Linked DNA regions of Homo sapiens. The protein of the gene in region 2 purifies or fractionates together with the protein of the main gene of each other region. This does not show direct contact. Each region holds a gene or a part of one and is shown on either strand. Other genes may lie near its edges.

The links.
Region 1: the proteins of CIB2 (region 2) and AXL purify together in Homo sapiens (affinity purification with mass spectrometry; one large-scale study listed by BioGRID and IntAct). This does not show direct contact.

The regions. Positions count from the first base shown.
Region 1 is NC_000019.10:41,250,121-41,253,769, reverse strand, and holds part of AXL (tyrosine-protein kinase receptor UFO isoform 1 precursor), read right to left. Parts: intron 1,420-3,649; coding exon 1,327-1,419; intron 925-1,326; coding exon 803-924; intron 172-802; coding exon 62-171; intron 1-61. UniProt on the Homo sapiens protein: Receptor tyrosine kinase that transduces signals from the extracellular matrix into the cytoplasm by binding growth factor GAS6 and which is thus regulating many physiological processes including cell survival, cell proliferation, migration and differentiation.
Region 2 is NC_000015.10:78,110,817-78,114,465, forward strand, and holds part of CIB2 (calcium and integrin-binding family member 2), read right to left. Parts: intron 461-3,649; coding exon 349-460; intron 1-348. UniProt on the Homo sapiens protein: Calcium- and integrin-binding protein that plays a role in intracellular calcium homeostasis. Acts as an auxiliary subunit of the sensory mechanoelectrical transduction (MET) channel in hair cells.

The sequences.
Region 1 (3,649 bases), on a different chromosome or scaffold from region 2:
GGGAACTCCCTCAGGGAGTGCAGGAGCAGTTGGGGGGGGGGGGTCCCTGAAAGGCACTCACATGCAGTTCCTGGCCGCCAGGTCCCGGTGTATGAATCTCTTGGTACTCAGATACTCCATGCCACTGGCGATGTCTGCCATGAACTTCACTAGCATCTGAGTGGGCAGGTACTGGGGAGCCAAGGCAGGTGGGAGGAGAGGTCAACAGAGTCCTTGATGCGATCCCTCCTCCCTCCATCCCTCTGTGCAAGCCTAGCTCTGCCCGCAGTGGTTTCCCATGGCCCTGACAATTCAACCCAACCCCTCTCCATGGCCTGCAAGGTCCTATAAACTTGCTCCAGCCTTCCTCTTGGACTTGATTGCCTATGTTCTTGCCCTTGACTGACACTCCCACCAGACTCCTGTCTGGTCTTCAGACAAACGATGATCATTCCCACCTCCGAGCCTTTGCCTATGCTGTGCGCTCTGTTGGGGTCGCTTCCTGCCCAGATCTCCAGACATCTCCCCAGCCCCAACTCCTTCACGGTCACCTCCTCGGCAAGATCTTCCACGTCCACCCAAATTCACTGCCTGGCCTCCTTATCTTCCATCCTACTGTATTTCCTTCCTAGCACTTAAACATTTAAATCATCTCGCTTAGGTATTTATTAGCTTGTTTATCATCCGCCCCTCCCCTGCTGGAAGAAATGCTCCAGGAGAGCAAGCTCCTGGTCACCGTGGTCTTCCCAGGGTCTGAGCAGCACTGGGTACCTGATAGATGCTCAGTTAATATTTGTAGACTGAATGATTAAACGCCCCTTACCACTGGCTGGTCCCCGAGCCGGGAATAGAGGAGGAAGCTGTGTAGGTCTCCATGTTTCATGAAAGGTAAGATGACCACAGGTGCTGGGAAGCTCTCTCGTTCAGAACCCTGGAAACAGACACCTGAGCCCCCCAGGTAGCCCTGTCACTCCTGCTGGGCAGAAGGGGAAGCCAAGCCCCCCACCAGCCAGCCTCCAGCCTCTCCTTCTCACTACCCATCCAATCTGGCCACCATATTGTTTGGGGGTAGTGGCAGTGGCAAGGACCAAGCTGCAGAGAAGCTGTTTCCAGCAGAGTTCCCAGGGACGTTTCCGGAGCCCTCCTGGGGACCTCAGCTATTTCTGGGAATGATCAGAGGTCACATTCCAAGCTGAGGGAGACTAGGAGGGGGAAGCCTGCTGACCCTGAAGGAGCGGGGAGCAGGAAGCCTGGAAGTTTGATCTTCCCAGGGCCAGAAGCAGGGCTCTTCCCTCTGCTATGGCCCCCATGGGGCTTGTAGACCCCTTGAATCTGCCCCTCTCTCACCGATGAGCCTCATGACGTTGGGATGGTCAAATTCCTTCATGCAGACCGCTTCACTCAGGAAATCCTCCAGCTCTGACCTCGTGCAGATGGCAACTTGAGGGAGAGAGAAAGGTCGTGAGGAGGAGGGGAGGAGAGGGAGGACTCTCCCTCCACCTCCACTCCATCATCATCATCATCATCATCATCACTCATCTTCATCAAACATGATTAGTAAGTACCAGGCACCATACTCAGCACTTTATATGTGATATGTGTATGTGTGTGTGTCTGTGTGTGTGTATATAATATATATATATATATAAAATATATATTTTCTTTTTTTTTTTTTTTTTAGATGGAGTCTCACTCTGTTGTCCAGGCTGGAGTGCAGTGGTTTGATCTCGGGTCACTGCAACCTCCGCCTCTCGGGTTCAAGCAATTCTCCTGCCTCAGCCTCCTGAGTAGCTGGGACTACAGGCGTGTGCCACCACACCCGGCTAATTTTTTGTATTTTTAGTAGAGACGGGGTTTCACCTTGTTAGCCAGGATGGTTTCGATCTCCTGACCTCACGATCTGCCCGCCTCGGCCTCCCAAAGTGCTAGGATTACAGGCGTCAGCCACTGCGCTTGGCCAACTTTATATATATTAACTCATTTAATCTTCTCAGGTGCTACTATTATCATTCCCATTTTATTGGTTTTTTGTTTTGTTTTGTTTTGTTTTTGTTTTTGTTTTTTATTTTTATTTTTTGAGACAGGGTCTTGCGCTGTCACCCAGGATGGATGCAATCACAGCAAACATAGCTCACTGGAGGTTAGGCTCGAACTCCTAGGCTTGCCTTCCTGAGTAGCTGGGACCACAGGCACGCACCACCATCCCGGATAATTTTTTTTTTTTTTTTGAGATGGAGTTTCGCCCTTGTCCCCCAGGCTTGAGTGCAATGGCGCAATCTTGGCTCACTGCAACCTCTGCCTCCCCAGTTCAAGAGATTCTCGTACCTCAGCCTCCCGAGTAGCTGGGATTACAGGCATGCACCACCATGCCCAGCTAATTTTTGTATTTTTAGTAGAAACGGGGTTTCACCATGTTGGCCAGGCTGGTCTCAAACTCCCCACCTCAAGTGATCTGCCTGCCTTGGCCTCCCAAAGTGCTAGGATTTCAAGTGTGAGCCACCATGCCCAGCCAATTTTTTGAGAGGGAGTCTTGCTATGTTGTCCAGGCTGGTCTCAAACTCCCAGCCTCAAGTGATCCTCCCACCTCGGCCTCCCAAAGCACTGGGATTACAGGCATGAGCCACTGTCCCTGGCCTATCTCTATTTTAAAGATGAAGAAAGCAAGGCACAAAAAGGTTAGGAGTCTGCCTAAGGGAACACACAGCTTGGAGGTGGAAGAGGCAGATCTCAAACCCGGGCAGTCTGGCTCCAGGGTCCACCTGCTCACAACTGCCCAGGCTGCTTCCCAGCACTTCCCTACCTGCCCTGGGGACCCAAACAAGTATCATCCCATTTAACAGTTCAGGACACTGTGGCTCACAGAGGCAAAATGACTTGCCCAAGGTTGCACGGCTGAGATTCAGACCCAGGCCAAGACTATAACCAGTGGGAGGCTGAGTGGGGAGGATCGCTTGAGCCTCAGAGGTTGAGACTACAGTGAGCTGTGATCCTGCCACTGCTCTCCAGCATGGGCAACGAGCAAGACTCTGTCTCAAAAAACAAAAAACGTAGGCTGGGTGTGGTGGCTCACACCTGTAATCCCAGCACTTTGGGATGCCGAGGCAGGTGGATCATGAGGTCAAGAGATAGAGACCATCCTGGCCAACATGGTGAAACCCCGTCTCTACTAAAAACACAAAAATTAGCTGGGCGTGGTGGCGCACACCTGTAGTCCCAGTTACTCAGGAGGCTGAGGCAGAAGAATCGCTTGAACCTGGGAGGCAGAGGTAGTAGTTAGCTGAGGTCATGCCACTGCACTCCAGCCTGGACAGCAGAGTGAGACTCCTCCTCAAAACAAAACAAAACAGAGCAAAACAAACAAAATAACCTGGTACACAGGAGGTGCTCCATAATGAACGAATGAGTGGGTAATGACTTCATAGCCCAAGCTTTTAAGCCCTGTAATTCAGAAAGGATCATTCTCTATTCACCACCAGCCCCAATCTGAATGCCCTATGCTTCTCCTTCCCTGTGTGTGAAGAACTTAGCCCTGGACTTCCTGTGCTGTGTAACCCTGAAATGGCTCCTGCCCTCTCTGATAATGGAAATAATATAGTCCTACTCCACATTAACAAGCATGTCCTACTTGCCACCCTCAGCATGAAGTGCTTTGCCTCAAAACAGCTTTGGA
Region 2 (3,649 bases):
GAGAAGCCACAGCCAGACAACGGGGAGACAGAAAAGTTATCTAACAAAGCAGACACAGGTCTGCCAACTACAGCAGGCTTGGGGCCACTTAACAAAGGGACAAGCAAATGAGCACAAGCCCATGGCCTGCAGTTGGGTGGCCACTGATGTACAGCACCCTTACAGAGCCCACATAGCTTATTTATTCAGAGTACAGATGAGGAAACTGAGGCACAGAGAGGTTCTGTGATCTGCTCAGAGCCACGCAGACACAAAGGGTGGAGCTGGGTTCAGCCTAGACCTGGGGGCCTCTGCTGCTGGTCCAGAGGCACAGATCCCCTGCTCGCCAGCAAGAGGTCCTGCACATACCCGGAGCTCTGGCATCTGGATGATGAGGCTCATGGGCACGTGGACGATGGGGCTCTTCCTGTAGTCCATTGGGACGAGGTTGGGGGCCAGCTCATAGAATCGCGAATGCAGCCTTGGAGGAAAGCAGAGAAAAAGCGCTGGAGGGGGTGCCATCCCTAAGCCCCAGCAGCCCGGTGCTGTCCTGCCTAGGCCTCTGCCTCTGCAGAACATCCTCAGCCAGGACCAGGTAAGGGGCCAATGGGAGGCTCTCTGCTCTGCCCACAGGGTGTGAAGTTGGGAGGGAGGTGAGTTCTGCCCAGACCTCTGTGCTGATAACCAGGTTGTGTCCAGGCCTCCCTATTTCCACCACACCCACCCCATCAGCACCACCACCATCACTCCTTGGGCCTGGGTCCAAATCTTTTAATTTTTTCTCCTTTGGGCTCTCATAAGGGTTTTCTATGCTCAGGATACTGTGCTAAGCACTTAACACATCACCTAATTTAATCCTCCTCCACATCACTGTGCAGACAGATGCATCCTGACCCCAGCTTACTGCTCAGCAAACAGGGCTGAAGAGGTTAAGAGTGATTTGTCTAAGGCCACATAACTAGGGAGCATCAAGGGCCATGGGTTGAGCCCAAGATGGGAAATCCAAGCAGAAACTCTTAGCCACTCTTCCCCCTTACACTCCTGAGGGTCCATCAAAGCCTGGGCCCACTTCGTGGCCCCACCACCCCAACTTAAGCCCTGAGGGTTGGGTCTCTCTGGGAGAGCTCTCAGCAGTCCTCACACCCTCAGGAAGCCCCTATGAATGGGTCACCCATAAACTCTCTAACTGGGGGCCATCGGGACCCAGGCTGCTACCCTGGTGGGCCTGGCCCTCCCTCCTCACTGATGGGTCAGGTCCCTAGCTCCTGTCCCAGCCTCCAGGAAATCAAGCCCACCTCAACAAGCTGCATGGACCCTCAAAGGTGTAAGGCATCCTGGCACTGTCTCACTTGGAAGCTCCCTTCCTCCCCGCCCCCTGCCCATTATTCAGTCTTTCTTTGCCCTATGTCCACTTGTCCAGGTCCCTGTCATCCCAGAGAATAGCCCCCCATCCCAAGACAGGTACAAATTGTATTTAGATGACATTGTGAGCTGCATGTGGTGGCCTATGCCTGTAAACCCAGTGTTTTGGGAGGCTGAGGTGGGAGGACCACTTGAGGCCCAGAGTTTGAGACCAGCCTAGGCAACACAGCAAGACCCTGTCTCTACAAAAATGAAAAAAAAATTAGCTGGATATCGTGGCTCAGTCATAGCTACTTGGGAGGCTGAGGCTGGAGGATCACTTGAGCTTGAGCCCAGGAGTTGGAGGCTGCAGTGAGCTATGATTGCCCCACTGCATTCCAGCCTGGGCAACAGAGCGAGACCCTGCCTCTAAAAACAAAAATTGTGTCCATTAAGTGCTGCCATGGGTGGGACAAGTGTAAGGGGCATTGACTGTGGGCTGAGGTAGGTAACCTGCCTAAAGTGATGTCCTAGGCTGCTGGTGAATGGATTAGGTATGACCCTGTATCTCCCAGGCTTGGGCCGGCCCTGCCACCCCCAAAGCCAGATCAGCCCAGGTCTCCTTTTAAGTGGCTTGACCCTGTGACACACCCCAGGCCCACCTTTATCAAGCCATTCAGCACAGCCACCCAACCTTCCTTGGGTTCTACCAGTTCTTGTGGTCCTGCTGCCTACTGTCCTTAGCAAGGCACCTGACTACTTACCCAGCTCAAACAGATAATAACACCAGCTATCGTTTAGCAAGTGCTTACTCTGTGCCAGGCCCTGAACTAATCTTCTCTGTGGATTGCTTTACTTATTTTAATCCCCAAATCACCCTGAGAGGTAGATATTAGTCTCCCATTTTCAGGTAGGGAAAACTGAGGCTCAAGAATCAAGTGTCTTCCCCATCCTACACAGCCAATGAGCAGTGGGAACAGGACTTGAACCCAGGACCTCTGGACACCAACCACTTGGCTCCTCCCTGCAAGTCAAGCCCTGGTAAGCACATCATCTGCTGGTTCAGAGCCTGTCCAGGGCAAATGAACAGTAAAATGCCACATGCCCACTTTGCCAGTCGCACATTCCTATAAAAGGGTCTGAAATTACAAGGATGTGCCATGACTTGGAGACAGAGCAGGAGGGGAAAACCCCTAAACTTGTACTTTGGGTGGGAGGAGGCTCAGCAAATGCCAGGGCGGTGGGATCAAGCTGAGACTCTCCACAAGAGGGCACTCAAGGACTTTCTTTGCTCCTATTTCTTGCATAGAGGAAAACTACTTTTTTTTTTTTACACTGTCCCCAAATAAGGAACAACCACTTGTTTCAAAATTCATGCATCTTCTTTCTTTCTTTCTTTCTTTTTTTTTTTTGAGACGGAGTCTCGCTCTGTCGCCCAGGCTAGAGTACAGTGGCGCGATCTCGGCTCACTGCAAGCTCCGCCTCCCGGGTTCAGGCCATTCTCCTGCCTCAGCCTCCTGAGTAGCTGGGACTACAGGCGCCTGCCACAATGCCCGGCACATTTTTTGTACTTTTAGTAGAGATGGGGTTTCACCGTGTTAGCCAGGATGGTCTCAATCTCCTGACCTCATGATCCGCCCACCTCGGCCTCCCAAAGTGCTGGGATTACAAGGCATCTTCTTTCATAATTCATGCATCTGGTACTTTGACATATCCATTGTGCTTCCAACTGCTACATTTCCCACTTGACCTTGACCCCACCTCATATGTGGCAGTGTGATGTTGGAGTGTTTCTAGGGGTTGGCCTACACCTCTGAAGTTTTGTGGGATGGCTGCAGCAGGAGCATGAAGTCAGGCTGAGGTTGGAGCCCTGCCTACACCTCTCATTAGCAGTGTGGGTAAGTGGGTTAATCCACTGAAGGATAAGTTTCTCTATCAGTAAAGCAGGGGCTATTCTACTGTTCTCACCCCTGGATGTTCATAAAACCACTGGCCTTCAACTGGCAGCTTTTAGCATGCTGCCTGCCACGTCAGAGGCTCCCTGGAAGGGGTGGACTAGGGAGAGAGGCTATGGGTGCTTGGCAGGGTTGAGGAGGTATCCTCTGGGGTGGGAAGGCCAGCTTCTACCCTGGGACACAGATCTGTTCTAAAACAGTAACTAAAATCACATTGGAATTTTTCTTTAAAGAAAAATCCAAGGAGAATTTGAAAACCCAAATCACTGTGAAAGAAACTCTAAGCATTGTCAAAGAACCACATCTCTGTCACCTCTCCCCCAATAAAGGGCACTGAATTCAAGAAGAGTTATATATTAGTCCTACTGTAACAT